Regions from separate parts of the Homo sapiens genome. Here all the other regions are linked to region 1. The links come from fine-mapping of genetic effects on gene expression. A gene starts in region 1. Each other region holds a variant in brackets. All regions are shown on one strand. Distances are from middle to middle. Region 1 holds the start of BBOF1 (basal body orientation factor 1). Region 2 has its middle 17 kb from the start of VRTN. Region 3 holds the start of LOC105370563 (a long non-coding RNA gene).

Region 1 (10,821 bases):
ACAAAGTTTAACAACATAACATTTTTCTAGTATATAGCAAAATGAGTAACAAAACTATGGGAAAGCTAGTTAATGAGGATATATTTAGTCTACTTTGTTTCTTCCTCCCAAGGTTGTTTCTTTTGGTTTAATGGCAATCCATGATTATAAAAATTACCCACCTGTTACTGCCAGATGCTGCCCTTTGATATAAGGAGGCAGATGAGAATCAGGAAGTACAAGTGATACTGATGTAGACCAATAACAATGAGCTATTACAAGCCACAAAACAAAGCATCTAAGTAACACATTTGGAAATTATTTCTATGGTTGACTAAAAAAACTTACTTTAGAACAATACTTTATAGAGGGCAATTTAATAATACCTACTATTAAAAGAGTAATTTTAAAAATAAAAATTGGCCAGGTTTTGTGGCTCATGCATGTAATCCCAACACTTTGGGAGGGTGAGGTGGGCGGATCACTCAAGGCCAGGAGTTCCAGATCAGCCTGGCCAACAACATGCCAAAACCCCGTCCCTACTAAAAATACAAAAAATAAAATAAAATAAAGATAGAAATTTCTGGACCAGGTGCTATTGCTCATGCCTGTAATGTCAGCACTTTGGGAGGCTAAGTTGGGAGGATTTCTTGAGCCCAGGAGTTCGAGGCTAGCCTGGGCGACATGGCGAAATCCCATCTCCACAAAAACTACAAAAAAATCAGCCAGGCATGGTGGCTCATGCTTGCAATCCCAGCACTTTGGGAGGCCAACGCGGGTGGATCACTTGAGCTCAGGAGTTCAAGACCAGCCTGGGCAACATGGCGAAACCCTGTCTCTACCAAAAATACAAAAAATTAGCCAGGCATGGAGGTGCGTGCCTGTAGTCCCAGCTACTTGGAAGACTGAGGCAGGAGGATCATCTGAGCCCGGATGTCGATCCTGTGGTGAGCCGTGATCATACCACTGCACTCTAGACCAGGCAATAGAGAGAGACCCTGTCTCAAAAATAATAATAAAGTAATAATAATATGAGACAGAGTTTTGCTCTGATGTCCAGGTTGGACTGCCGTGACATGACCATGGCTCACTGCAGCTTCAACTTCCTGGGCTTAAGTGATCCTCCCGCCTTAGCCTCCCGAGTAGCTGGGACTACAGGTGCACACTGCCACGCCTGGCTATTTTTTACTTTGTGTAGAGACTGGGTCTTGCTTTGTTCCCCAGGCTGGTCCTGAACTCCTAAGCTAAGTTATCCTCCAGCCTCTTCCTCCCAAAGTGTTGGGATTATAGGCATGAGCTACCACACCCAGCCTGAATTTCCACTTTTAACACCCACTAGGGGTGTGACTTTGGGCAAGTTACCTGTCCTTTCTGAAAGTCAATTTCTTCATCTGTAATATGGAAATAACAATATTATAGCTACATGGGGTCATAAAAATAATTAAATAGGAGGTTAGTAAAAGAATCAAGAGAGGTAAAGCACCCAGTATAGTACATTGTAGTGGCTCCAAAATGTTAGTTCCCTTCCCTTTTTCTTTTCTTTTCTTTTTTTTTTTTTTTTTTGAGATGGAGTCTCTCGCTCTGTCGCCCAGGCTGCCAGGCTGGAGTGTAATGGTATGATCTCAGCTCGCTGCAACCTCTGCCTCCCGGGTTCAAGCAATTCTCCTGCCTCAGCCTCCCGAGTAGCTGGGACTATAGGCACATGCAGCCATGCCCGGTTAATTTTTTGTATTTTAGTAGAGACGGGGTTTCACTGTGTTGCCCAGGCTGGTCACGAACTCCTGGGCTCAGGCAATCTGCCCACCTCAGCCTCCCAAAGTGGTGGGATTACAGGCGTGAGCCACCACACCCGGCCTCCTTTTTTCTTCCAAATATAAAATGATAGCTTTACTCTCAACACTTTAATAAGGTACAATAAGATACAAGATTCAACTGGCCAAAAATAAAAATAAAGATTCAACTTGCTGGGTTCAGAAAGTTATCATGGATTATCAGTGAACTGCTTTACAAATTTTTAAAACTAAAAATCAGCATCAAAAAATATATAGATCACATACCATGCTCTTATCCTTAAAATAAAGTAGATCATAAAGTTCCCTTATGATCATCAATCTCTGTTTGCTTCAGACAAGAAAACATGCAACAAGGATTGAAAATAAAAGAGAGCCGATAACAGTAAAACCATTCTGAAAAAGTGTCTTGCTTCAAACAGAGTTAAGGTCAATTGAAATGTCTTAAGTATATGTTAAGATTTCAAGGAATTAAAAATCTTTGAAATACATAACCACATCAGCATCACCATAGAGGTAGTTAATGAGGCCAAGGAGGCTTTCTACCTACCTACCATATTATCTTTCTCCTGATCCTGCTTCTTCAGGTAACTTAATACTGACATTATGTCTTTCTCCATTTTACATTGCTTTTTCTTTAAGTCCTCATTACTTTTTGCCAGTATCCGTGAAGTATCACGATACTTAATCCTAGAGAGTTCTGTGACTTCCAACCTGGCCTCCCAAAGGGAGGCATTGGCCTTGGCTCTGTCCACCACAGATTCATCTGTTTTTATTAACTTCCTGCATGGGAAGAGGATATTGACAGTATATGACTATTTATACAACTCTAATATGCAGATAGTATATAACTCTATTATATTACTATTAAATTTTTCTCTTTTTTTATTTGTTTTGCTTGGCATTGCCTGGCACACATGATCAAATATTGTTGGAAGAATAAGTTAATAAGAAATACATATTCACATTTGAAAAAAGAAAAAAAAAGAAATACATATTCACTTGTATTCACATAAGATAATTAAGTAAGTGCCTCTTCCTGGAGGAGGGGAGTCCTGGAGCATAACTCGAAAAGACTGGTAAAACAAAGGGAAAAGACAGGATAAGCCAAACTCATTTCAGAAAGCTTTCATATCTTTTTTTTTTCTTTTTGAAACTGGGCCTGGCTGTGTCACCGGGCTGGAGTGCAGTAGCACGATCTCGGCTCCCCAGAACCTCTGCCTCTTGGGCTCAAGCCATCCACCCACCTCAGCCTCCCAAGTGGCTGGGACTACAGGTTCATGCAACTATGCCCAGCTAATTTTTGTACTTTTTGTAGAAATGAGTTTTTGCCATGTTGCCCAGGCTGGTCTTGAACTCCTGGGCTCAAGTGATCCTCCTACCTCAGCCTCCGAAAGTGCTGAGATTACAGGTGTGAGCCACTGCGCTTGGGCAGTTTTTATACCTTTTCATTTACTTATTTGATTCTCCCATATTTATTTTTTTTTTAATAGAGATGGGGTCCCACTATGTTGCCTATGCTGGTCTCCAACTTCTGGGCTCAAGTATCCTCCCACCTTGGCCTCTCAACGTGCTGAGATTACAGGTGTGAACCAGTGCCCTAGCCTGATTCTCCTGTAGTTAAACTATCTTTTCTATTCCTACTCACTCAGTGCTGGACTTTGGTTCTCTCCACTGCAAACCCATTATCTCTGTTCAGTTTCTGCATGATGATACCCATTGGTAGTATAACTGTGATCTCCCACCCACTTTACCCTCCACTTTTGAGTGTGTTTTTTTTTTTTCTGGGGGAGGGACGGAGTCTCACTCTTTCACCCAGGCTGAAGAGCAGTGGCGTGATCTCGGCTCACTGCAAGCTCCGCCTCCCAGGTTCATGCCATTCTCCTGCCTCAGCCTCCCGAGTAGCTGGGACTACAGGAGCCCGCCACCAGGCCCGGCTAATTTTTTGTATTTTCAGTAGAGACGGGGTTTCACCGTGTTAGCCAGGATGGTGTTTTTGTTTTGTTTTGTTTTGGGCTAGGTCTTGGACAAAAAGTCAAGTCACTAGGGCAAATACGTTAAATAGTTTATCAGCTGGTGCCACAGTTCACCGGACTTTTTTTTTTTTTTTGAAACAAGATCTTGCTCTGTCATCCAGGCTGTAGTGCAGTAGCACCATCACAGCTCACTGCAGCCTCAACCTCCCAGGCCCAAACGATCCTCCACCTCAGCCTCCTAAGTAACTGTGACTACAGGCATGAGTTAGCATGCCCAACTAATTTTTAATAAAAATTTTTGTAGAGACAGGGTCTTCCTATGTTGTTCAGGCTGGTCTTGAACTCCTGGGCTCAAGTGATCTTCCCCTGCTCAGCCTCCCAAAGTGCTGGGCATGAGCCACGATGCCCCACCCACCGGGCTTTAAGGATGCCTGAGAAACCATAATCATTTATATAGAGGTGGAGAGGAAAAAGGATGGATTCAAAGATTAAAGTGGTAAAGGAAGAGATTTTTCTAAATATTTATTGTATAAGCATTAACAAAACACTCCCCCTTATATATGGTAGGTACCATGATATATAAATATGTACATATTTAAGAATATTTCACCTGTATTTGAATTCTAAATATTTTCACACATATGTACATGTGGACCTTTCTATACTGCCACCCTCCACATCCACTTTCCTACCTCTGGTTCTCAGTCCTCTTCCACAGAGGTAATGGGTTTGCAGTGGAGAGAACCAAAGTCCCACTTTCACCTTTTGTTCTCTTCAAATTAAGGCCAGCTCCATTCCCAACCCCTCAGCCTGTTATAGCTGTTGATGTCCCTTTCTGGCATGATTTAGGCACTAGTGATACACTGTCTCACTACGACCATCCAGGTATCAGGTCTGAGTGGCTCGAAGTACTTGATGCGACAGGGCATGGTGGCTCACGGCTGTCATCCCAGCACTTTGGGAGGCCGAGGCGGGTGGATCACCTGAAGTCAGGAGTTCGAGACCAGCCTGGCCAACATGGTGAAACCCTGTCTCCACTAAAAATAAAAAAATTAGCTGGGCGTGGTGACGGGTGCCTGTAATCACAGCTACTCGGGAGGCTGAGGCAGGAGAATTGGTTGAACCCAGAAGGCAGAGGTTGCAGTGAGCTGAGATCGTGCCATTGCACTCCGGCTTGGGCAACAAGAGCAAAACTTGGTGTCAAGAAAAAAAAAAAAGTACTTGATGCAAGAAATTAGACACTCTAATAGGACCACTGATACTCACTGTAGAAACAAAGCCAGGTTTCTCAAACAATGGGTCATGGAAAATCCAAGGAATAAGGTCTCTTACCCTTAGTGTTCCTCATTGTTCAAATGTGTACTGTAGAAGCATGGTCAAAATCTGAAAACATATGTTAGTGAGTTCTAGGAATGTGATAAGCCCTTGGCACTTTAAGGGCTAGACTAACTGTGCAGTTATGTAAAAACAAAAAAAAAATACCATAAAAGAATACTTACATTAACAAATGGGAAGAAAAAAGCCACATATAAGTATGTACATTGGGCTATCGTTTTATTAAAAAAGAATACTCCAAAATATAGTAGTGTTTATTTTTGGATAATGAGACTACAGGTGATTTTTGTTTTTTCTTTTGGTACTTCCCATGTTTCCCAAACTTTCTGTATTGAGCATGAATTACTCTCTTAAGTTACTTTACAAACATCTCAAGTTTGGTGCCAACTCTGTGTTCCCATATATGGTGTTGTTGCTGGACACCACGTATGACTCCAACGTGTCCAGAAACCACCGGGGTCCCCCAATAGGGCTAGTAGCAATCTAGCAGCAACTCCAGGCCTGTAAGGGGTTAGTGCTAGAACATTACCCACCTCAGTGGCTCTGATCAGTTTGGGAAAACCTCAATAATTATCCAACTTGGTAAAATACTTTAGGTGTCCCCTTTGAACCAAAAGAGATCTCTGAAAAGGCCCAAGGAACTACTTTATACATCCTCTACACGTTTAAGATAATCTGAACACATAGTAGAGATCTGCCAGACTATGGACATGGGAGCTGTAATCCTCACAAGCCGGGAGAGCCGGGGAGAGGGTCCGAGTGGGCCGGCGCGGGGGGCGCCAGGTTGCCAGCCCCAGACCCGAAATCCCAGGCAGGCCCAGGGAGAGGGGACTCTCGGGTGGCTTCTCCTTACTTCGTGTCTTTGCCTTTGCTCTTGCCTTTCTTTTTGTCCTTTCCCTTCGACGGCATCTTGGCTTCCCCAGGGGCTCCGCTGTCGTAGTTGCCCAGCCGCGGCCGCCCTGGCCAGCTCTGTCTCCAAGGGAACCGGGACGCCGAGCTGGCAATGCCCCACCCGCGCCGCTGACGGCGCGCGGAGAGCGCACGCGCCCGTGACGTAGCCCAGGCGCCGCGGCGCGCGGGGTGGGGCGGAGGTCGCGCCGAGGGCGGCGGGCTGCCGCGCAAGGGTGGCGCGCGCGCGGTGAGTGTGCGAGTGTCGGCGGCGCCGGATCCTCTACGTGGGGCCCGGGCTCTGCGGGCGGGAGGCGGGAGCTGGCAGCCCCAGGCGGTAGCGCTTCGTCCTGCGGCCTGGGTGTGTCAGGAGTCGCTGCGGTCGGGGCGCCCTTGCCTCAGGAGACTTAGATCCCCGCTGATCCGCCCGTCCCGCCGCAGTGGTCTGAGCCGCAGCCCTTTCCCGTGCCGCCCGCGGGTCCCGTTCCTCCCGTGTCTCCATGCCGCAGCCAGCGTGGCCGCGGCTACCTTGCCCTCGCCCCCGCTCCGCTTCTGCCGCTCCCGGCACTGCCTTACTCCTTTGGGTTGCATCTCTTTCCTGGCTTTTCACCCTTGCTGATTCTGTAAGGGATAGTGCAGCCAGCGGACGTCCCAGGCCAAATGTTTTTTGATAGGCAGTCGAGGACTTTCCCGAGGGCGGTGGTTGAGGGCGAGGCTGCCAGCCTCCGAAGAGCAGCGGCACGCCAGGGAGCCGGGCGGGGAGGGGAGTGCTGCCACCGAGGTCGGGAGCAGGGTCCTCGGCCTCACTAGGTCCTGTGTGGCCGATACTTCCTGCCCACGACCGCCCCCCGGATTTCCATTTGCTAATACCGGTCCGCAGCCTTCTTTCCTGAAAGTTGCATAAAGTTGGAAGCTCTTCAACTTGCCTCCCCGACTCCTGAAATCCCGAATACACCTCTGAAAAGGAGTGTACTCACAAGTATTCTCATTTTTCAATGAGAGTCAGTCAGTGAGTCATTAAGGAAGGTACGGTATTCTGAGTGCCAAGCCAATAGTTAGGAGACTTGTGGTTGAAGCTCTGCTCTGTTATACTCCATTTCAAATTAAAAAGTTTATTTTAAATGTGGTTGTAGATCCTTCGTCACCATTTCTCTAGGGAGGACTTAATCCGTACACTCCTTCCCGATGTCTTTGACCTCTAATTACTCCCCTCCGCCTTGTTTCCCACTTGCATAGTTTCTGTTTCTGAATTTCTGTTTCTTCTGAGGGAACATGCCGATTTGGTAATGATAAGCCTTGTAAACTTTTTTTTTTTTTTTTCTGAGAGAGAGTCTTCTGTCACCCAGGCTGGAGTGCAGTGGGGCATCTCGGCTCCCTGCAACCTCCACCTCCTTGGTTCAAGCGATTCTCCTGCCTCAGCCTCCCCAGTAAGTGGGACTACAGGTGCATGCCACCACACCCGGCTAATTTTTGTATTTTTGGTAGAGATGGAGTTTCACCATGCTGGCCAGGCTGGTCTCGAACTCCTGGCCTCAGGTGATCCACCTGCCTCGGCCTCCCAAAGTGTTGAGATTACAGGCGTGGGCCACCGCCCCGGCTGTAAACCTTTTTTTTGAGACAAGAGTTTTGCTCTTGTTGCCTAGGCTGGAGTGCAATGGCGCAATCTCGGCTCACCACAACCTCTGCCTCCCGGGTTCAAGCAATTCTCCTGCCTCAGCCTCCCCAGTAACAGACTATAGGTGCGTGCCACCATGCCAGGCTAATTTTTGTATTTTTGGTAGAGACAGAGTTTCACCATGCTAGCCAGGCTGGTCTTGAACTCCTGGCCTCAGGTGATCCACCCGCCTTGGTCTCCCAAAGTGTTGAGATTTACAGGCATGAGCCACCGCCCCCGGCTGTAAAATTTTTTTTTTTTTTTTTTGAGACAGAGTTTTGCTCTTGTTGCCCAGGCTGGAGTGCAATGGCACGATCTCGGCTCACCGCAACCTCCACCTCCCAGTTCAAGCGATTCTCCTGCCTCAGCCTCCCGAGTAGCTGGGATTACAGGCACACACCACCATCCCTGGCTAATTTTGTATTTTTAGTAGAGACAGGGTTTCTCCATGTTGGTCAGGCTGGCGTAAACCTTATTATACATACCATCTGCCAGCATGATCATGGCTTTTTCTTTTCTTTTTTTTTGAGATGGAGTTTCGCTCTTGTTTCCCAGGCTGGAGTGCAATAGCACGATCTCGGCCCACCGCAGCCTCCACCTCCCAGGTTCAAGCAATTCTCCTGCCTCAGCCTCCCGAGTAGCTGGGAATCCAGGCATGCGCCACCATGCCCGGCTACTTTTGTAATTTTAGTAGACACGGGGTTTCTCCATTTTGGTCAGGCTAGTCTCGAACTTCCAACCTCAGGTGATCCGCCCGCCTCGGCCTACCAAAGTACTGGGATTACAGGCGTGAGCCACCACGCCTGGCCGATCATAGCTTTTTCTGAGTGTATTTCTGGTATACTTTCACACTCCCGTGAGTCCATAGGCGGAATCGCCATATATTGAAGAGTTTATCTCTGATGTAAAATCTATAAAGTTACCATTAATTTTGTATGTGTAAGGTTCTGAAAAAGCACACTGTTGATAAGCTGCAGAAAAGAGAGTAGGGCATCTTCTGTCACAGGCTGTATATTTGGAATTTATTCTAGAAATTGGTAACTTTATAATATGAAAGTCAGTCCAAGACTCCTCATTTGAACATAGGCTTACAGATTAATGTATGAACATAAAAATTTGACTATAACAAGATTATTAATGTATGCGTAGTACCTTAGTTATAGTACTTTATAGTTTCTTTTATTGGTTTTTGGGTTTTTTGATGGTTTTTTTGAGATAGGGTCTTACTCTTAACCATGCTGGAGTACAGTGGCAGGATCATGGCTCATTACAGCTTCGACCTCCTGGACTTAAGTGATCCTCCCACCTCAGCCTCTGGCATAGCTGGGACTGTAGGCATGCACCACCATGCCTGGCTAATTTTGTATTTTTTGTAGAGACAGGGTTTTGCCATGTTGCCTAGGCTGGTCTTGAACTCCTGAGCTCAGGTGATCCTCCTGCCTTGGCCTCCCAAAGTGCTGGGATTACAGGCATGAGTCGCCACACTTGGCCTAGTTTATTTTATTGTATTATATATATTTTTTATTGACTAAGTTTGATTTTGTAGATAAAGCTGTTGTGACATGAATATGGCTCAGGGAAATGCCAAGATTTCATACTCTGGTAGAGGTGGATATAGAGTCTACATTCTTCTGAATCCCCTCATTTTCTACCAAAGAACTGGATGTTGTTACTGTCATCTGCTGGTGAGCAACAACTGATAGTACAGATAGTAGAGTAGGAAGTTGCTATTTAGTAGTTTATCTGGTAGCATTTCCTTCCACAGTTACTGGTAGGTGCCTTTACTATGAAGTTCCAGGAATTATTACTAAATAAATTTTCCTTGTTTCATTGTTTAGAACACTAATGCTTTTAAACTTGGAATAAGCCACTTCATGTTTTGTTGACTTGGTTTTGTAATTCTTTTTCTGTCCAGTTTTCCTTGTTCCTGGTCAACAAAGAAATGTGGAGTGTCTTGGCTGAATCCTCATACAGACAAGATCATTATGGTGCTGTTAGGTAGGACTTGTATCCAGATGTAAGGTAATATCTCCACTAGCTTAAATTTATAAATGTATTTCAAATGTTCCTGAATGGTGGTTTTCTTTTTTTCCTGAATTTAATTCTCTGTTTTTTGCCAAGTGATGTTAATTTTGTCCAACAAGCCATATATAAAATTTAGAACTATTATGTATCAAAATAGATAGAATTTCTGGCTGGTCATGGTGGTTCATGCCTGTAATCCTAACACTTTGGGAGGCCAAGGCAGACGGATTGCTTAAGCCCAGGAGTTCAAGACCAGTCTGGACAACATGGCAAAACCCTGTCTTTACAAAAAATACAAAAATTAGCTGGGTGTGGTGGCCATGTACCTGTAGTTCCAGCTACTCAGGAGGCTGAGTTCAGAGGATCACCTGAGCCCAGGGAGATCATGGCTGCAGTGAGCCGTGCCACTGTATTCCAGCCTGAGCAATGGTGTGACTGTTTCTCAAAAAAAAAAGGGGGGGCGGGGGGTGGGTAGTACTTCTGCTTTTTTCTTCTAGTAGGTCCAAAACTGGGTTTACTTTATAAATTCATCTATAACTTTATTCGGGTTTACCTTAGAGGCCATGTTTCCCTTCATAAATCATTCTTGAGATCACCTTATAGCAGATGGTACTTTATAGGTGGATCAGTCTAAGTGAACAACTTTAGATTTTGTTTCTACATAGCCTTTAGAATCCTGAATAAATATATTATTATCCAAACTGTTTCTTATGGGAGTTACTTTCTTTTTTTTTTTTTTTGAGAGGTAGTCTTGCTCTGTCGCCCAGGCTGGAGTGCAGTGGCACAATCTTGTCTCACTTCAACTCTGCCTCCCAGGTTCAAGCAATTCTCCTGCCTCAGCCTCCCGAGTAGCTGGGATTACAGATGCCTGCCACCATGCCCGGCTAATTTTTGTATTTTAGTAGAGACAGGGTTTCACCCCCATGTTGGCCAGGCCGGTCTTGAACTCCTCACTTCAAGTGATCTGCCTGCCTCGGCTTCCCAAAGTGCTGAGATTACAGGCTTGAGCCACCACACCTGGCCAGGAGTTACTTTCATCCTGCTTTTTTATTGCATGTGCTGCAAATATAGAATTCTACTAAATTGACATTTTCTCGTGATATTAAGACTAGTTCACATCTCTGCAGGGGCATTTTAAGAAATCCTGGCGGTCAAGGATTTAATCTTATCACTT
Region 2 (10,821 bases), 350 kb before region 1:
AAGCTGATAGAAAAGTTGCAAAAATAATAGAGAAGTCCCTTGTGTATCCTTTACACAAGTTCCCCTCATGTTAAAAACTCACATAAGTATCATAAAATGATCAGAACCAGGAAAACAGCAGTACAGTATCACTAACCAAACTACAGTGCTTAGTCACATTTCACCAGTTTTCCCCCAATGTCTTTTTCCTGTTTCAGGATCCAATCCAGGGTCCACATTGCATTTAGTTGCTGTCTCCCTCGTCTCCTCCAATCTATGTCAGTTCTTCAGGTTTGCCTCATGGCCTTGACACATTTTAAGAGTACTGGTCAGTTAGGATGTAGAGTGTCTTGCAATTTTGGCTTGTCTGACATTTTCTCAGGGTTAGATCAAGGTTGTAAATTTCTGGCAAGAATTCCACAGAAGTTATCTTAGTACTGGCACTGTTAACCTCAATCACTTCATTTCCTTGGTGTCTGCCAGGTTTTCCCATTGCAAAGTGACTGTTTTGACATTTTTACTAAGAAAAAAGGGATGGCGTTGAAGGATTTGAAGCAAGGGAAGTAACTTTAGATTTATGTTTTAAAAATCCCGCGCTGGTGGCAACATGAAGAACAGATTAGAAGGGGCTAGAATGTATGTGGGGAAGATTGGTTGGGCGTATACTGCAGTCTGATATGTGATGGTGGAAGTGGAGAGAAGTAGGCAGATTCTAGAGATGTTTAGAAATATCCTGGCCAGGTGTGGTGGCTCATGCCTGTAATCTCAGCACTTTGGGAGGCTGGGAGGCAGGAGGATTACTTGGGCCCAAGAGTTCAAGACCAGCCTGGGCAACATATTGAGACTCCCGTCTCTACAAAAAAAAAAAAAGTTTTTAATTAGCTGAGCATGGCTGGGCACAGTAGCTCACCCTTGTAATCCCAGCACTTTGGGAGGCCGAAGTGGGTGGATCACCTAAGGTCAAGAGTTCAAGATCAGCCTGGCCAACATGGTGAAACCCCATCTCTACTAAAAATACAAAAAATTAGCTGGGCGTGGTGGCGGGTGCTTGTAATCCCAGCTACTCAGGAGGCTGAGGCAGGAGAATCGCTTGAACCCAGGAGGCAGAGGTTGCAGTGAGCCGAGATCACAACATTGCATTCCAGCCTATGTAACAACAGCAAAACTGTGTCTCAAAAAAAAAAAATTAGCTGGGAGTAATGGTGAACACCTGTGGTCCCAGCTACTCAGGAGGCTGAGGTAGGAGGATCGCTTGAGCCCAGGAGGTCGAGGCTGCTCCAGCCAGGGAGACAGAGTGAGACTCTGTCTCATAAAAAGGAGTATCTAGAGATATTTAAAACCATAGGGCAGGTTAATGAGACCATGCAGAGATTCTGATTTAATTGGTGTGCAGTCGGGCCTGGGCAGAGCCAATCTTAAAAGCACCCATGTAATTGTAATGTTGAGCCGCAGGTGAGGTCTGTGTCCAGCCCACAGCTTGCTCTACACAGGCCTCAGATGAAAGCTACTCAGAAGAACAACACTCAAGCTGCTCAGGTCTGTTTGGACACATGGGGATGAAGATGGAGCTGGGGGGGCATCCCCTGCCATCTTCTCACAACCCAGAGAAAGCTGACTGGTGGGGAGGGTAGAGGAAGCTAATGAGAGCAGAGGACCCAGGGAGCACTTACTAGCACACCACTGACTCCCCAGGTAGGGTTGCCAGAGAAAATACAATCAAATCAGAATTTTTGGTAAATAATGAATAATTTTTAGTATGTCTCAAATATTGCATGGAGCATATACATACTAAAAAATTATTATTTGTTGGCCAGGCACAGTGGCTCACGCCTATAATCCCAGCATTCTGGGAGGCCGAGGTGGGTGGATCAATTGAGGTCAGGGGTTCGAGACCAGCCTGACAAAAATGGTGAAACCCCGTCTCTAATAAAAAAAATAAATAAAAAAAAAATTAGCCAGGCATAGTGGCACACTAATCCCAGCTACTCGGGAGGTTGAGGGAAGAGAGTCACTTGAATCTGGGAGGTGGAAGTTGCAGTGAGCCGAGATCACACCATTGCAATCCAGCCTGGGCAACAAGGGCAAAAAATATATCTATTATTTGTTGATCTGAAATTAAAATTTAATTGCGTAGTCCCTATTTTTATTTGCCGAATGTGGCAATTCTATCCCCAAGACAAGGATCCAATGGGTTCGGCTCATTCCCATCCAGTTCAGCAGCTTCCAGACCAAAGGGACTATTCTCTGCCTCTGCCTCCTCCTCTCGCTCCTGTCTCATCCCTAGTCTGGCCTGACCAAGAGCAGGTCAGTACAGGCACCGGCTCCCTCTCACCCTGCTGACCGGCCTTTACATGAGAACAGACACAGGGGTTTCTGTCACAGGACCTAGGCGGAAACACTCAGCCTTCCGCTCCAAACACACTCACTTCTTCATTCAGTGACTATTTTTTGAGCACCTACTATGTGCCAGGCGCTGTTCTAGCCAGAGGGATAAGCAGTAGACAAGTCAGACGAGTTCCTGTTCTCTGGGGGCCTCTGTTCCTGCATTTCAGGTTGAGGAAAAGGACAATAACCCAGAAAACGACTGTTGAAATGGTGATGACAACAGTGAAAGGACGTGGCAACAGTGACTGAGACCAACTTGAGATGGGGTCTGGGAGGGCCTCACTGAGCGGGTGACGTTACTTTGAGTTGAAGGACTGGCAAGACCCAGCTACATAAACACATAGGGAGGAGTCTTCTATCGGGTAGGGCTCCAGCACGTCTGGCCGATTGGTGGGACTTGCCAATTCCTGTGGTGTGAATACTCCATCCTAGCCAATTCCGAGCTAGGCACATGACATGGCAATTTTAAGAAAGCTAATATTTATGTATTTATTTATTTACTTTTTTGAGATAGGGTCTCACTCTCACTTTGTCACCCAGGCTGGAGTGCAGTGGCACAATCACAGCTCACTACAGCCTCGACCTCCCAGGCTCAGGTATTCCTTCCACCTCAGCCTCCTGAGTAGCTGGTACTACAGGTGCACACCACCACACCCGGCTAACTTTTTTCGTAAAGATGGGGTTTTACCATGTTGCTCAGGCTGGTCTCAAACTCCTGGACTCAAGCCATACTCCCACCTTGGCCTCCCAAAGTGTTGGAACTACAGATGTGAGCCACCGCGCTTGGCCAGAAGCTAACATTTTAAATGGTTTTGGACCTTAGAGTGTGAGGGCCAAATGGCTGTATCAAGATCCTACTCGCATGGGGTTTTTCCAGGCTATAGGCCTCAGTTTCTTCTCCCCATCCATCTTCTCTGCTCATTCACTGCAACTTTTGATTTTTAGACAGGGTCTCACTCTGTCGCCCAGGCTGTAGAGCAGTGGTACGATCTCCAGGGTTCAAGTGATCTTCCCACCTCAGCCCCCTACCTCCCGGTAAGTAGCTGGGACTATAGGAGTGCACCACCATACCCAGGTAAGCACTGAGACTTTTGAGAGGCCCTTTCGGAAATCCAGGAAAGGCAGTCTTGCTCCTTTTTGCCCCACAACAACATTGCCTCCCTGTTTCCTCTCTTAACATATTCCTGGCTGAAGAAAAACTGACTTTAAAAACCAAAGTCTTAGGCCGGGCGAGGCGGCTCACGCCTGTAATCCCAGAACTTTGGGAGGCCGAGGCGGGTGGATCACGAGGTCATGAGATCGAAACCATCCTGGCTAACACGGTGAAACCCCGTCTCTACTAAAAATACAAAAAAATTAGCCGGGCGTGGCTGCGTGTGCCTGTAGTCCCAGCTGCTGGGGAGGCTGAGGCAGCAGAATGGCGTGAATCCGGCAGGTGGAGCTTGCAGTGAGCCAAGATCGTGCCACTGCACTCCAGCCTGGATGACAGAGCAAGACTCTGTCTCAATAAATAAATAAATAAATAAATAAATAAATAAATAAATAAATAAACAAACAAACCAAAGTCTTGCCAGGCAAGGTGGCTCATGCCTGTAATCCCAGCACTTTGGGAGGCCGAGGTGGGCAGATCACCCGAGGTCGGGAGATCAAGACCATCCTGGCTAACACGGTGAAACCCCGTCTCTACTAAAAATACAAAAAATTAGCCAGGCGTGGTGGTGTGCGCCTGTAGTCCCAGCTACTCGGGAGGCTGAGGCAGGAGAATCGCTTGAACCCAGGAGGCGGAGGTTGCAGTGAGCCGAGATTGTGCCACTGTACTCCAGCCTGGACGACAGTGCAAGACTCTGTCTAAAAAACAAGCAAAACAAAGAAAACACAAGTCAAAGATACTTGGCTCCCTCCTATTTCCATGAAGATGAGCTCTGAGGATCAGTGGATCCTGCAGCCATCAGCCCCTGTCCTGGATACTGCCATGCAACTCAGTTATGCCTCCCTTGTTGTGTCCCAATTCTATTTTTTTCTTTTGTGTGTGTGTGTGTTTGTGTGTGTGTGTGTTTTGTTTGTTTGGTATTAGATTCGAGGTTTTTTTGTTTGTTTGGAGACAGAGTGTCGCTCTGTCACCAGGCTGGAGTGCAGTGGCACAATCTCAGCTCACTGCAGCCTCCTCCTACAAGGTTCAAGTGATTCTTCTGCCTCAGCCTCCTGAGCTGGGACTACAGGCATGCACCACCATGCCTGGCTAATTTTTGTGCTTTTAGTAGAGACGGGGTTTTACCATCTTAGCCAGGCTGGTCTCGAACTCCTGACCTTGTGATCTGCCTGCCTCGGCCTCCCAAAGTGCTGGGATTACAGGTTATAGGTACAAGCCACTTCACCCAGCTTTTTTTCTTTTCTTTTTTTTTTTTTTTTTTTGAGACAGGGTCTCACTCTCCCAGGCTGGAGTGCAGTGGTACAATCTCAGCTCACTGCAACCTCTGCCTCCTGGGTTCAAACAATTCTCCTGCCTCAGCCTCCCAAGTAGCTGGGTTTACAGGCATGCACCACCACGCCTGGCTCATTTTTTGTATTTTTAGTAGAGACTGGGTTTCACCATGTGTGCCAGGCTGGTCTCGAACTCCTGACCTCAAATGATCCACCCACTTCAGCCTCCCAAAGTGCTGGGATTACAGGCGTGAGCCACCGCACCTGGCCTTTTTTTTTCTCTTATTTTTAGACACAAGATCTCACTCTGTAACTCAGGCTAGAGTGCAGTGGCTCAGTCATAGCTCACTGGCAGCCTTGAACCCCTGGCTTCAAGCGATCTTCCTGCCTCAGCCTCCCAAAGCACTAAGATTACAAGCATGTGCCATTGTGCCCCAATTTTGTTTTTGGTTTTGTTGTTGTTGTTGTTGTTTTGAGATGGAGTCTCGCTCTGTTGCCCAGGCTGGAGTGCAGTGGTGCAATCTCAGCTCACTGCAACCTCTGCCTCCCAGGTTCAAGCAATTCTCCTGACTCAGCCTCCTGAGTAGCTGGGATTTCAGGCACCTGCCACCATGCCCGGCTAATTTTTGTATGTTTAGTAGAGACGGGGGTCTCACCATGTTGGCCAGGCTGGTCTCAAACTTCTGACCTCAGGTGATCCGGCTGCCTCAGCCTCCCAACGTGTTGGGATTACAGGCGTGAGCCACCATGCCCGGCCCACCCTCCCAATTCTAACTTAAGTGACAACAGATAACTCTGCCCAGTTAAGGAGCCTAGAAACTGATCTTGACTGTCAATACCTGCAGTCTGCCATACTGCAGAGGCAACTGTCTGAGCCAGGATGAGCTGCAGCGGGGGAGGGAGGCAGGTGAAGGAAAGGGAACCAAAAGCCACTCAGCCTGGATGCTCCCCAAATACCTCCCTGACCCCACAGCCTGCACTTCTCCTCCTCCTGGCCCTGGGGCTTGCAGTATGGAGTGGGGTGAGGCATTGGCGAGGACCCCCTGTGACCTTTCTGCCTTCTGCCAACCCAGTGGTCTCCGCAGGCAGAGGGTCATACATGAGCAGCTGCTTGCCCAGTCTCCTCCTGGCTGCCCTCCTATCTCTGTTCCCCCAGCTCTCTGCCTGGCAGGGAAGACCTCCTAGAGTTAAGTGGATTTCATGCTATTTTCAAAGTCATTTTTAATGGAAAAATTTTTTTTTTGAC[G/C]GAGTCTCATTCTGTTGCCCAGGCTGGAGTGCAGTGGCACGACCTCAGCTCACTGCAACCTCCGCCTCCTGGGTTCAAGTGATTCTCCTACCTCAGCCTCCAGAGTAGCTGGGATTACAGATGCCCGCTATCACACCTGGCTGATTTTTGTATTTTCAGTAGAGATGGGGTTTCGCCATATTGGCCAGGCTGGTCTCGAACTCCTGACCTAGTGATCCACTCGCCTTGGCTTCCCAAAGTGCTGGGATTACAGGCGAGAGCCACCGCTCCTGGCCACATGGAAAAATTTTTATACCATTAAACCTACTTTCTGCTGCTTCTTATCTAAAACCTTCCCTCCTCCTCTTCCATGAGATAAACTAGCAATGGGAACACTTACCAACCCACTAGTGACACCCTACAGGTAACCTGGGTGTCACTGGCTGGGGTTGGGGAGAAGCAATCACACTAGGAGAAGGTTCTGGTGAGATATCAGGCCAATGAAAGCGGACAGCCAGGGGCAGGAGCAGGCTTCCCTGCACACACTCTCAGGGCTTTGCTTCTCAGCCTTCCAGCCCCATCCTGACAACTGCCTGGTGGCACGAGCCCTGTCCCCTAGCTTCCCATCCTCCTGTGACAGCCACCAAACTGGAATGGGTCTTTTACAACAAGTGACTAGGGTCACCTGAGGGGCAACTGAGGCATTTCCCAGAGACTCCCAGGCAGCCGACACTCAAAGAGCTGGCTCATTCTCGGAAAATAGGCCACAAGGTACCAGACACAGATCAGCCAGCATAGGCTTCCTGTGAGCCTGCTGCACTTTTTGCCCATTCCATATGGAAGCCTCTATCACACTGTGTCACACCACGGCTGCTGCAAACTGAGGGCTTTGTGAGGACAAGAGTTGAATACAAACGGCTCTGTCTCCTCAGCTCACAGCTCAGCCTCTCAGAGGCTGCTAGATAGGAACCTATTATATCTGCCAGATCCCTTGTGAGCAGGGCCGACACAGCCCTTGGCCAAAACTTGTCCAGTAGCCTCAGGTGTGACCTGGCATGAAAGCTGTGCTCAGGGGAAAGGATGGGACAGGGATGGGCTGGACCAATGGAATTCTCTTCCCTGTGATTACCCAGCAGTGTGCAACCTTGTGAAACCCGCCATTTTTCTAGGGTCCTGCTGGGATAGAGGTATGGGAGAGAGAACGTTCTAGGACAACTCTTAGCTTTCTGGACAGTTTAACTAAGAACCTGATGCTGCAGAAACTGGGGTGAAAGATACTCAGAGAAGTGTGTCCCAGGGTAATGGGGGGGATGAGCCCAGATTGGCAGGCAGTGAGAATGAGGCAATGGTGGGACATCCAGGAGTGGCAGTTGGGATATGAGGTGGCTGCTCAGGACCCAGAAGCCACCAGCAATGCCCTGGGGCCTGAGTGCTGGACTCCAGAGAAACATTTGGGGAGCAGCTTATGTTGATCTCCACCAAAATCCTCTTCCTCCAGGGGATAAATGTGGAGATAATTTTTTTAAATTATTCAATGTTTCACTGGATTTTTTTGTGGGGGGAGGTGAAGCTTTTATATTTAAGATTGTTAAATCTTAACATCATCTGAGGTCAGGAGTTCAAGACCAGCCTGACCAACATGGTGAAAACCTGTCTCTACTAAAAACACAAAATTAGCCAGCCATGGTGGTGCACACCTGTAATCCCAGCTACTCAGGAGGCTGAGGCAGGAGAATTGCTTGAACCCAGGAGGCGGAGGTTGCAGTGAGCCAAGACTGTGCCACTGCACTCCAGCCTGGGCAACAAGAGCAAAACTCCGTCTCAAAAAAAAAAAAAAAAAAAAAATTGTTAGAAGAACTTGTTACATTACAAATACACAGAATGTTGGAAGAAGATGCAAAGTTAACCTCACATTTTTTTCTTCCTTTATTCACACATTGTTCATTTCACTGGACTTTCTACACTGCATCAGAGATAGAAAATGGTGAAGAAAAATACAAATAAGTTCAACAGATGTTGATTTCAAAAATCAGCATGAAGTATTCTTAGCAAATACGGTCACCACTTGGTATCCCTGCCTTTCTAAGCAGATTAGAAAGGAAACAGCTTTTCTACACAAGAATAACTTATCCATACTTATGAAACCTTTTCCAAATCTATAAATATTGATATACCATTTTTTATCTTAATTTCTTCCAACAGAAGCTAAAATTTCTGCCTGTGAGTTCAGGGCTCAGGGCTAGCCTCTGGCAAAAACACCTTTCAGTCCTGGGACAGGAGTGTCTTTAACCTAGAGGGTAACCTTGAACGACAGTATCCATGGGTATTGACTTCCTCCTAGAAAACAGGAATCAGACTCCCAGAGGTTCTGAAACTGGGCTTATCTAACACTATGTGCAGGATACTATCCTATAGGCATTACTGTAATCCCATCTTACAGATGGAAAAAGTGAGGCACAGCAAGGTTATGTAACTCATCCGTGTGCATATACTACCTCTCCAATGTCTCAGGTTGGAGTCAGCAGGTGTGAATGGGGCACTGGAATTCACGCTCCTAATAAGTTCCCACGGAGACTGCGATCCAGGTGGTTTTTAGACCCCGCTGTGAGATACTCCTCCAGGCATCAGAGGATTTGCTCTGGTTTGAGAGTTCAGGCAAAAGAGCAAATAGGAGAATCCAGAACCCCGATAAGGGTAGTTCTCAGGAAGTTGCTACCACCCTGGATGGCCAAAGCAGTAAGGCGGATACACCGGGGGTTGGGAAATCAGAGCCGCGTGCGGATTGGGAACCCAGAGAGAGACTTTGTCTGTTGCTGCACCCGATTGCCATCTGCTGGCTATATGTGGCTATTGCAGGCCAGATGGTAACATTCCCAGTCCAACCCCTCCATCAAATGTCAAATGGTTACATTGGTGGTGGGGCTTCAGTGAAGACTCCAGGGCTCAGTACAGAGCCTCAACAATGCCACTTGTGGGAGGGAGAAAAGAATGCAGGGGGAAAGGTCAGTCTGAATGAGGGTTGGTGGGGAGAAATAAGCCGGAGAGGAAAGTAGGGGCCAGAATCAGGTGGGCCTCAAAACAGTTAGGATTTTGTACTGAGGGCCAACGGGAAATCCAGCAGTGAGTCAGACTTTCAGTAGGATCATTCTGGCCTGTCAGGAAGAACTAGGATAGTTTGAGTGGAGGCAGAGTCAGTTTGAAAACTGTTCCAGTATCAAAGATGAGGAACAGATGCTGGTATAGATTAGGGGGTAGCTGTGGGGATGCAGAAAAATGGTCCACAAGAAATATGGAGGAAGGGGGATTATGTCTGATAAAACCAAATCCCAAAGGAAAACAGCAGGAAAGGGATAGAGACCCCATTTCACTCATTCCTTCTTTCAACACATTTTAGCACCTATGATGCCAGGAACGAATCTACCTGCTGGGAACACAGTGGTGTGAGCAAGTCAGGGAAAAGCCCAGATTTTCATGGAGCTTACATTCTGCTGGGGAGGTAGGCAATAATCAAATAAACAAATAAACAAGAGAAACATCAGATGGGAGTAAACACCATGAGAATGAAAACTGTGGTGTGATGGTGACCCTCAGAGATCTGAATGGTAAGAAGTCTGCCATGTAAATATGACAGGGAAAAGCATTCTAGACCATAGCAGCAAATGCAAGGGCCTTTAGAGCAGAAACAAGTGTTCAAGACCAGAGGCAGCTGGTATGGTTGTAGCGTGGTGGGTTAGGGCCAGCATGGAGCAAGAGGCAGAGTCAGGGACAGATTGTCTGGGCTTTGTAAAGCAGCACAAGGAATTCTAGGAGTAAAGGGAAGCCACGGACACATTTTAGGCAGGAAAGTGAAAATCCGATTTCATAAACTCTCTCACTGCTCTATGGAGAATGGGTTGTATAGGGGCCAGGCATGGTGGCTCACGTCTATAATCCCAGCACTTTGAGAGGCCGAGGCAGGCAGATCTCTTGAAGTCAGGAGTTCGAGACCAGTCTGGCCAACATAGTGAAACCCCGTCTCTACTAAAAAGGCTAAAGTTAGCCAGGCATGGTGGCACGTGCCTATAATACCACCTACATGGGTGGCTGAGGCATGAGAATTGCTTGAACTCAGGAGGTGGAGGATGCAGTGAGCTGAGATTGTGCCACTGCATTCCACCCTAGGTGAGAGAGAGAGACTCTGACTCAAAAAATAAATAAATAAAAATAATGGGTTGCAGCACTTTGGGACGCCGAGGTGGGTGAATCACGAGATCAGGAGTTCAAGACCAGCCTGGCCAAGGTGGTGAAACCCCATCTCTACCAAAAATACAAAAATTAGCCAGGCATCATGGCAGGTGCCTGTAATCCCAGCTACTTGGGAGGCTGAGGCAAAGAATTGCTTGAACCTGGGAGGTGGAGGTTGCAGTGAGCCAAGATCACATCACTGCACCCCAGCCTGGGCAACAGAGCGAGACTCTGTCTCAAAAAATCATAAAAATAATGGGTTGTATAGGGGTATAGGGGCAAGAGTGGAAGCAGGGAAGCAGGGAGATGGGGTAGGAAGCTGTGATGTGGGCCAGGAGAGACAATGGCAGTAGAGTGGAGAGAGGGTTCTGGGTATCATTTGGAGTCAGCGTCAATAGGACTTGCTGATGGATTGGATGTGGGGTGAATAAAAAGCAGAGGCAAGAATGACTCCCCAGGAGCACAAGGATGCCAGCCACTGCAGGAAACCCAGACAGAAGAAGGGCCTACGGGAACTTCTTCCCTAATGATTCCTCCCTCACCAAACAGGCAAAGGCCTGGGCTTAAAGCTCCCATTACATCCCTGC
Region 3 (10,821 bases), 120 kb before region 1:
TGTGACTCTGATAGGTAGTAAATCCATTCACCATGGAAAGCTGAAATCAAAATCATTGTCAAGGTGCAGGTCAAATTCATACTAGGCCACAGACACTTGATGGTGGCTTTCTTATCTCTTTGTTGCCACTTCTAGGCTTAGCAGGGTAAAGCTAGACAGGCTGTTGCATGGCCCAGTGGCCAAATTATGATGTAAAGTTACTTCGCCCCCTTAACATACTGATCTATATGTGGAGGAATAGACAATCAAGCAATTTTTTTTTTCTGTCTAACCTAACAAACTGGGATACTAACAAGGGAAATGAATATGAGAAAAAAATAATTTTTGCAGGTTAATCAAATAGCAACTGCTATATAAAATACTACATTTTACATGGAATCTTACAGCAAGAAGGAAACCAACTTGCCACTGTTGATATGTAGGATTTGTTGTTGTTGTTGTTCGTTTATATCCCACTTTTTTTATAAGACTTTTTCCAAACACCTTTAGCCTACTGTAATCTCTCATTTCTGTCAACTTCTATGCTCCTCAAGTGGATCAGTACATGCTCTCTTGTACTGTGATCAAACTTTTTATACATTTGCCTTGTCTCTCTAGTCAGATTGTAAGTGCCATGAGAGGAGCTTATGTATTTTTGACACCCAGGGTCTAGCACATTGGTTTACATAATAAATATTTACTTATTATGATAATATCAAAATCTTAAGAAATAGATGTGAACCTTTGGTAGGGTCCCAGATGTTAACATAAGTACTGAGGAGGATCAGGAGATTATTTCCAATCTATTTTGCGAAATAATAAAGGGAAGAGGAGAGTTAGAAGGGACTTATTCATGAATTGAGGAAAGTGGAATATAAAATCACTACACATTAAAAAAAGGCCTTTGATTAGGAGCAGGCCTATAATAGACTGTCAAATCTTCTGGGCTTCCTAGATAGGTTTTGTTTTCTTTTTTCTTCTTTTCTCATATAACTTTTAAAAACTTGAGATATAATTCACATAGCATAAAAGTCACCTTCCCCCACTTTAAAATTGTGAAATATACATAACACTTACCATCTCAACCATTTTTAAGTGTACAGTTTAGTGTGGCATTAAGTGTGTTTGCATCACTGTGCAACCAATCTCCAGAACTTTTTCAACTTGCAAAACTGAAACTCTGTAACCATTAAACAATACTCCCCCATTCCTCCCAACCCCCATTCTACTTTCTGTCTCTATGAATTTGACTACTCTGATTACCTCACATAAGTGGAATTACGTAGTGTTTTTTTGTGACTGGCTTATTTCACTTAGCATAATGTCCCACAAGGTTGTGTGTCAGATTTTCCTTCCTTTGTAAAGGCTGAATAATATTCCATTGCATGTATCTACTACATTTTGTTTATCCATTCACCTGTCAATGAACATTTGGATTGCTTCCACCTTTTAGCTATTGTGAATAATGCTACTATGAACACAGGTGCTGGGATTTCAGGCGTAAGTCACCACACCTGTCCTACCCAAGTACTTTCTTAATGGTGTCTTTGAAGCACAGAAGTGTTTAATTGTAATGGAGCTTGTTCTTTTGGTATCATATCTAAGAAACTACTGCCAAATTCAAGGTCATGATTTATGCCTATGTTCTATAGTTTCAGCTCTTATATTTAGGTCCATGATCCATTTTGAGTTAATTTTTTATATGATATGAGGTAGAGGGTCCAATTTTATTTTATTTTATTTTTTATGTGGATATTTTGTTTGTTTGAGATGAAGTTTCGCTCTTACTGCCCAGGTTGGAATGCAATGGTGCGATCTCGGGTCACTGCAACCTTCGCCTCAGGCATCCAAGCGATTCTCCTGCCTTAGCCTTCCAAGTAGCTGGGATTACAGGGGTGCGTTGTCATGCCCAGCTAATTTTGTAGTTTTAGTAGAGATGAGGTTTCATCATGTTGGTCAGGCTGGTCTCAAACTCCTGACCTCAAGTGATCCACCCACCTCGGCGTCCCAAATTGCTGGGTTTACAGGCATGAGCCACCATGCCTGGCCTCATGTGGATATTGTTTTCCAGCACCAGTTGTTGAAAGAGACTACTTTTCCCCCATTGAATGATCTTGGTGTCCTTGTCAAAAACCAATTAACTGTAAATATGGGGGTTTATTTCTGGATTCTCAATCATATTCCATTGATCTATATGGCTATCCTTATGCCACTACTGCACTGTCTTAATTACTGTAATTTTGTAGTAGGTTTTGAGACTGGGAAGTGTAAGTCCTTCAACTTTGTTCTTTTTCAAGATTGTTTTGCTATTCTGGGTCCCTTGCAATTATTTCCATGTGATTTTTAGGATTAACTTGTCAGTGTTGATTTTTCTGTACTTTATGCTTAAGAAGGAAACCAAGGTATTCTGAACAATCAATCTATAATTGTTACTAGTACCTGAATTCAAGTCTTTAATATCTGTGGGCTTTCTACTATGAAGGCATGAAAGTCAATGTAACACAGGAGTTTATCTGCAATTTTGCTTAGGAACAAATCTGAACAGCACACACTGGAAGAGCAATTCACTTAGCTGGCTAGTGAACCTAGTGGTCCACCCAGTACCTGCATCCCACCATGGCTACGAGATTCCCTAACAGTACTCTTACACATGATAAAAATAACATTTTATGGAAACTGAAGAGAACTAAAGGAATTTGGAAGGCATATTTTTCTTATGGTTGGCACAGATATATGACATGAATAGTTCCATAATGTATCCAGCCGTGTGTGGGAACGTTTTAACAAGTATCCCAGCTTTTATCAAACATGTTCATCAATAGAGAGAAAAATACATACTTCTCTGAAAAGGCAGTGAGGATGATTCAGGAAACATGGGATTCATGACCAAAATGTGATTTGGGAAAAAATAATGAAAGGGGAAAAGTAAGCACCTATCTATTATGTACCAAGTATGGTAAATGTTGGGAATTCAGTGGTGAAACCTGCAAATACCTAGATATCCTCACAGAGCTCTATGAGGGAGTTTAAGATCAGACTTGACTATTTCACGTCATAGAATCTGCAGTCTTTATGAAAAAACAAGTTTTCCATACCAATCTGAAAACCCCAAGACATGAAAGGAATGTCTTTCCAAATATTGGTAGTCCAGTGGAAAAAAACACCCTCAGACACAGGGCAAGGTGTTTTGGACTGGTTTCAAAAACATTTCATGTTTTGTCTCTTAGAAGGGCCGAGAAACAAACAAACAAAAAAACAAAACACTTTGTGCCAGAAATGTCTAAGCTTGAATTTCAAGTTCTCCCTACTGTGGAAAATGTGGAAGGCTATCTTTAATTACTATAGTTTACAATTCTAAATCCTTAAGTGATGTTCCTTCCTCTGAATACTTCTGACTTTTCGACCAGACTGTAAGAGACAAGCTCAAAGCATATGACTTTGCCACACTTTCATTGTCATCAAAAAATGCCATGGACAAAGATAGCAAACTTATTAACAGGCAGCTTTAGAAGAGGTACATCCTTGATTATGTAAGGATTCCATAGAGAATCTTTTACTACAAATCAGGTGATCTACAAAAGTGGATGCTTACTGGCATACTGTAAGGAAGAAGGCAGTGTATAACTTTAAGATTATTTTCACAGGCAATGAAGAATACACTGTTAATACTGGAGAGGCAAGAGGTTGGCAAAGGTTTGGAGGGCACACATAAAAGTAATATGGAAGAACTGAAAAAACAATAAGACTCACAGATGAGTTGGCAAAGAATGGCAAAGGGGATGACACTGAAGAATTAGAAGAACTTTTTTGAGTTTTCATACATTTAGTCAACGTTCTAATGGAGAAACAGCTAATTGACACCATAACTGCTTATGATCAATGGATAGAGCTTTAAATGTTAAAATCTGCACTGATTTCATACCATGGAATAAAAGCCAACTACAGCTACCACTCAGAGTTCTTTAGAAAGAAGCGATCACTTCACAAAGGTTCCCTCTCAGAATACTGTTTCACAATGATCTCCCTTATCTCTTCTATCACGTGCCTTGTTTTCAAGGTTATTGTTGAAGTGTCACTTTTTTTGTGGCTTAGTACACACTTCATGATCTCAACCACACAACCCGTGATCATCTGACATGTTGAGTTTGAAGATTCAGACAAGTTCCAGTTAACATTTCTATTTGTAATTAAACATATTGCAGTGTAACATTTATTTTAGTGGGAGAATACTTTACTTACTTCTAATTATAGAATAATTCATACCAAAGGCCCAAACGGTAACAATTTTTTTAACTGTACTTTACCACATTTTAGAGGAAAAATGATACACTATGAGTTATCACAAACTTGGAAATTTGCAGTTACCTCATGAATGTCAAGGTCCTGTCTTGAAAGCGACAAGCTGACTTACCACAGAAGTGCCAGGTGCTCATTTTATAGGTAGATTTCATAGACCT[T/C]ATATTTAATAAGAATTTGTTAGAGTTACATTTGCTAAGGGAAGACAATCTCTCAGATGTTGAGAATACCAGAAAAAGAATCTTTTTGCTGCATTCTTCCTAGGAGAGACTGAAATAATGTGATGGTTTAAAAATAATTTGAGGCTGGGCACAGTGGCTCACATCTGTAATCCCTGCCTTTCGGAAGGCCAAGGTGGGAGGATTGATTGAGCCCAGGAGTTCGAGACCAGCCTGGGCAACAAAGTGAGACCCCTCCCAACCCCCATGGCTCCAATTAAAAAAAAAAAAATTAGCTGGGTGTGGCTCCCACACCAGCTACTTGGGAGGCTGAGGCGGAAGGATCTCTTGACCCCAGGGTCGAAGCTGCAGTGAGCCGTGTTTGTACCACTGCACACCAGCCTGGGTGACAGAGCAAGACCCTGTCTTAAAAAAAAAAAAAAATTGAAGAATAAAACCTTGTCATGTGTGACAACATGGTTGAAACTGGAGGGCATCATGTTAAGTGAAATAAGCCAGACACAGAAAGACAAATACTGCCATGATCTCACTCATATGTGGAATCTTGTAAGAAAAAAAAAAATTGAGATCATAGAAGCAGAGTGGTTACCAGAAACTGGAAAGAGGGGAGAAGAGGGCAGGGGAGGAGGATGAGGAAAGTTTGGTCAACAGGCACAAAATTACAATTATACAGGAGTTCTGGTGTTCTGTTGCACAGCAGGGTGACTAGTTAACAGTAAGGTATCACATATTATGAAATAGCTGGAAGAGAGGCTTTTGAATGTTCTCACCACAAAGAAATAATAAATGCATGTGGTAATAGATATGCTAGCTACCCTGATTTGATCTTTATACAACATATGTGAATTGAAATGTCAAACTGTACCCCATAAACATGTACAATTATAATGTATCAATTAAAAATATGAAAAAATTATAATTTGTATAGTTAAAAAAAAACTTCACAGTAAATTCTTTGTTAAAAAGTGCATCTGCTTTTTTGGCGGACTATGTGGAGACAGAGGCTTCTCATTCTGTTGCCCAGGCTGGAGTGCAGTGGAGCAATCACAGCTCGCTGCAGGCTCTGCTTCTTGGGCTCAAATGCATCCTCCCACTTCAGCTTCCCAAGTAGCTGGGACCACAGGGGCACACTGCCACACTTGGCTAATTTTATTGGTATTTTTTGGCAGAGACAGGGTCTTTCTATGTCGTCCACGCTGGTCTCGAACTCTGGGGTCAAGTGATCCTCCCACCTTGGCCTCTCAAAGTGCTGAGATTACAGGCATAAGCCACTATGCCCAGGCTCATTCTGTTTCTGTCAGAGTAAGATAGGAGAGTATAGAACACAGAAGACACAAAATAGTGTACAAAATAAGAAAGATGTTCTGTTAAACTATAGGTGTTATGCACAAAGCTTGTAGGAAATTGATAATTTATACTATAAACTATTTTCCTATTTCAAATGCACATCCCGCTTGTCCTAGCTTCAGGGAACTGATTTGTGTATGCTCTGGACTCATTCCATAGTCTATCTATAGTAAGAAACTTTATCTGAAATTTGTCTATTTGCTTATTAGATTTAGTCTTCTGATGACTTATGGAAAGTCCTAACCCAATTTGATCAGAAAGCCAAAACGTCACCAAGAGGAAGCATAGGTCCAGGGCTGAGCAAAGGTTTTTTGTAAAGAACCAAACAGACTGAATGTGGCCCACAAGCCTAACATAACATAAGTATGAATGGGACGTAAGGATGTTATGTTAGGCTTGTGGGCCACATTCAGTCTGTTTCAGATTCTTCCGTTTTTTGTTTTTGTTTTACTTTTACAGCCCCCATAAAAACGTAAAAAACATTCTTAGCTCAGAGAATACAAAAACAGGTTGCAGGCCATAGTTTGCTGACCTTTGGTCTAGAGCAGTGCTGTCCAATGTGGTAGTCATTAGCGACACATGGCTACTGAGCATTTCCTAGAGTGACTGAGGAATTAGATTTTAAATTTTATTTTTAATTAATTTAACTTCAAACAAACACATGCAGTTAGTGGCTACTGCTTTGAATAGTTTAGGTCTACAAGATCTCCAATAGCCCAGAACAGCCCCAGAAATCTCTGTATACCTACATCCCATGAATCTAATAAAGGCTTGGACAAGAAGTAAATCAGTTATTGTTATTAATAATAGCCTCCAATTATTAAATTAAAGATTGGGCATCAATTCAAATGACTAACATCAAGGACAAGAAAAGCACTGTATAAAAAGTCTGAAACAAAACTAGTTTGCATTTTGCAATTTAGTAGTATGACATCTCTTCAATATTTGGTCAAACCTCAATTTTGAAGTGTTGAGAATGGGACTAAAGAGCTTCGAGTTAAAAAAAAGACTTGCAATGCTCCCATCTTTGGCAGATGTGGAATTTCTACCATTCAATTTGCATACAGATTCTCTTATTAAGACAGATGCAACTAAAATTAAGTTTCTGTTTGACTGAGAAGACAACTGATTTCTCCTATCACTGACCTGAAATGCTCCTGGAAAATTGCTTTGCTTCATTCATCACACTGCCACTCCCAGCAAGGCCCTTAAAGTTCATGAGGCACAAACTTGCTTTGTTAGCCAAGCTGTTACACAAGAAACCTAAGTCCTCATTTCCACGTGCTGACAAATCATTTCCCAAGTCCATTAATGCGTTCAAAACTTGATTCCTGGAACTTCTGAAGTAGAAAATTAGGGGAGAAAACACTCATTCAACTTTAGAGGAAGCCGCCAGTCAGTGCCTTGGACAACACTCATCAAAGGCTATTTGTTTTCCCCACCTATCTGGGACAGAATACTTCTCATTTAACTAAGCAACAAATTAAAAGCACACAGTGGGGTGCATATCACTACACATATGTCCGGCTAATGATGCATGACAAGACTCACACTACCTCCCCCCTAAAAGCTTTACCTCCAGAATTTCCTATTTTAAAACAATACTGGACTAAAATGTAACATTCCTGAAGTAAGGAAAATCACTTCATGTAAAAGCAGAGTTTGAACTATGGAACACAAGTCAGTGGATGCAACCTGCTTGTATGGTAAGGCTTCATTTATAAGGTCCAAGTCAAACTATCTACAAAGAGTCTTGAATTGGTACATCCATATAGTGAAATCCTATGAAGCATTTGGAAAACAGTGAAGCAGATCTATGTATACTGCTGTGGAAAGATATCCAAGACATGTTGTGGGGTCAAAGATAAGTCACAAAACAGTATGTATATTATGATTGCATCTGTGTATGGTAATGTATATAAACTTTACTATGTACAGAAAATGTCTGGAAGCATCCATGGAGAAACTGTTCGTGGCAGTTACCGCTCATAAATTCAGCAGATAAGGATTTTACTTTTCACTTTATATCCTTTCATGTTATTTTAAAATATTCTTAAAATCAAGAGCTTGTATTATTTGTATAAGTTTAACATATTCCTTTAAAAGCACAGAGAGATCTTTACAGTGGTTTCCTCCAGAAACCACTTATTTACCATTACAGTGTTTGATAATTGAAATGAAAAAGTTAAAACTGTTCCTTTTGTAGTTAACATCATTGTAATGTTCCTACGATAGCTTTTATTAATGAATTTCCATGGGGGACAGAAGAGAAAAACGCACACAACGGTATTACAAAACAGAAAAAAAATAAGGCACTTGCTAGGACAAGGCAATCCACAAGTGCCAACCAGCTCCAGGGCCATAAAGATCTCAGGAGAGCCATCACATTTCAATTACCATCACTAACATTACTTATTATTTGGCCTGCTCCAGTCCCTAAGGAAGGCAGCTTGTGATGATAATACCCAGCCTCTTCTTGTAAAACAATTCATTAGGCAAAGCAGAACAGCTGGGGCAGCCACGTGCGGGTTCTTAAAGCACCGCCCCACTGGGACCTCTGGCCCAGATTTCCCTTTTCGTGACGGACAGTCACCACCCCTCTGACAGCTGTAGAGTCCTCCGGGGACACTTCAGGTTTAATCAGTACTTCCTGCACTGGAGAGGGTCATTTGATTTCTAACATAAACTAATGGCAATCCTGCTTACAGCAGGTTACACCAGACATCAGATAAGAGGCTTTAGGGCATTTTTATCTTGTTCTAATGCTCGAGAGTTAATGAGGCAGCAAAAGATATTGTCATAGAGCCCCGGTGTAGCTATATTATCCAATAAACAGACTCTTTCCAAGACAGGTTTAATATGGATCGAGGAGGTAAAGAAGGCTAGCTTAATATTGATCCTACTGAGAGGATGAGAATCCAGTCACCATAACTAGGGCAAAATCATGCACATTCTGCAGTAGACAAAGTGCTACAAGAAGGTAAGGAGTCGCCTTTAAATACTAAGAGTAAAATGCTGCTTTTTACATTTAAAGCAGCAAAACTCTACTAGACTTATTTGGTGTTTTGGGCTAAGTTATTTTTAAAAAGCTTTTAAGTGAATCTATTTTTGTGTTTTTGCTGAAGTGTTCTTAGGAGTTAAATTTTAAATTAGTAATAAAGCTATTGTGGCTTTATATTAATTATATAATCTATACACTATATATTATAAAAGGGATAGCTTTTTTACTAGCTATGAAGCATGTTTTATTACATTAAACCATAGACTGCCTTTAACTTCTAAATATCACCACAGTCTACCTCATACAGGCTTCAGAAATAATTCAATCATCCATTCAACAACACCAATAGCCTATTATAATCAAGCCTATGTGAAACACAGTGAATATAAAAATAAACTCTTGGACTCACTATGCTAGCTGCATAAAAGAAAATATTACTCTAGCAATATTTTTCTTATATCTTAGAATCTGTTTTGGTAAACATACACAAATCAGAAATCCAAGTGTTTCTCTTCTCCATACTGGAAATATCTATAGCAGGTTCTGCTCAGCAATTTTAAAAACTGACCATTTCTTGAGTGGCTTGTTCCCTGAAGATGAAAAAGAGCTGATATTTTCTAATATTTATTTACTTGGAGAAATAGCCAAAGGGAGGGGGAAAAAAAAAGGTCTGCAAGATCCTTTAACAGGAGATGTTGGGCACGCAGTCACCCATTTATGGAGCACCAAACAAGCTTAATGTGGTAAAGAAAACAAGATCACTAAGTCCATACATGCACCTGTAAAATCACTAATTCTGAGCTTCCTTCTCAACACATCACCTCACATCCTTCTACTGACCCCACTGCTCTTGCAAAGGTCTCTTGTCCCCTGCTATGGCAGAGAATATTGGCTGCCTATTCCAAGATCCATGTTCCCTCTTCCTCTGTATTAACAGATAGCCAACTTTTTTGCTACCAAAATTATAGCTCAGAATAAACAATTACATTATTTTGCAGCCAGGCCAGGTGATTTAAATTCTGTGGGACTTCCAGGAAGGCTGCTTAAAAAGAAAAGTGTCAGCTGTGTGGGATCCCTTTTTTAAATTAAATTCCTACCCCACCTTCTTGCCTACAATTCAGGCATGATGGCTAGAGCTCTAGCGTGTATAAAGTATATTTAGGATGGAAGGATGGAAACTTTAGTCCTTGATGACACCTTTGGAACTGCCCTACCTGCTAGGTGCATCTACCTCCAGCTTTCCTTTTTGTTGAAAAAAAAAAAAAAATGCTACCTTGTGTAAGCCACAATTATTTTAGATTTCCTGTTATATATGGTTGCACTTTATCATAATTAACAGACTATATATTCACAACCTTTTCACCTATATAACCCTGATAGTAGTTTAAATTGTTAAGTTATTCATTTCAAAGATGCCTTTTTTTTTTTTTTTTGAGGCAGGGTCTCACTCTGTCTCCCAGGCTGGAGTGCAGAGGATAGGGGGTGGGGTGAGGGTGCAATCACAGCTCACTGCAGCCTCACTCTTGGACTCAAGTGATTTTCCCACCTTAGCCTCCCAAGTAGCAGAGACTACAGGCTTGAGCCACCTCACCAGCTAATTTTTAAATTTTTCTGTAGAGATGGAGACTCGCTATGCTGTCCAGGCTAGTCTTGAACTCCCGGCCTCAAGTGATCATGCCACGTTGGCCTTCAAAGATGCTTTAACAACACCTTAGCAAACAAAACTGAAGTTTTATAATGCATATCTCAGTTCCACACTAAATTGTATTCTCCTAGTCACAAGGGCTTAAAATCTTGAAATCACTTTGACTCATCTCTCTAGTCTGTTACAATTTATCAATTTTCCCCCAAAATATCTTATCCATTCTCAAAAATTCCTTCCCATTCTGAAGTGTATTCTTTCCTCTTATATACAAATATTAGACATCAAATTCTATTTCAAGTTTCATCTCTTCCAAGAGGTGTTCCCTGGATTATTTACCTCACTTTTCCCTCTGTTTTCTGAATGTGCGGAACACA

Evidence for each region.
Region 2: its variant is fine-mapped to the expression of BBOF1 in subcutaneous fat (GTEx, PIP above 0.99).
Region 3: its variant is fine-mapped to the expression of BBOF1 in whole blood (INTERVAL, PIP above 0.99).

What each region holds. Positions count from the first base shown.
Region 1 is chr14:74,014,647-74,025,467 of GRCh38, reverse strand. BBOF1 (basal body orientation factor 1) reads right to left here and starts at 6,119. Exons shown (of 12, transcript NM_025057.3): 1 at 5,934-6,119; 2 at 2,324-2,552. The coding sequence starts at 5,989. ENTPD5 (ectonucleoside triphosphate diphosphohydrolase 5 (inactive)) reads left to right here and starts at 6,180. Exons shown (of 16, transcript NM_001249.5): 1 at 6,180-6,218; 2 at 9,538-9,644. RefSeq lists enhancers at 3,368-3,662, 3,428-3,722 and silencers at 6,003-6,252, 6,283-6,352, 6,363-6,502, 6,543-6,612, 6,528-6,822.
Region 2 is chr14:74,360,525-74,371,345 of GRCh38, reverse strand. No RefSeq gene overlaps it. Among named protein-coding and RNA genes, the nearest start is that of VRTN, 17 kb to the right of the region's middle. The variant G/C (reference allele first, on the strand shown) is at 6,032.
Region 3 is chr14:74,138,184-74,149,004 of GRCh38, reverse strand. All of the region lies in intron 5 of LIN52 (lin-52 DREAM MuvB core complex component), which reads right to left. LOC105370563 (a long non-coding RNA gene) reads left to right here and starts at 6,444. Exons shown (of 3, transcript XR_944024.3): 1 at 6,444-8,781. The variant T/C (reference allele first, on the strand shown) is at 4,437.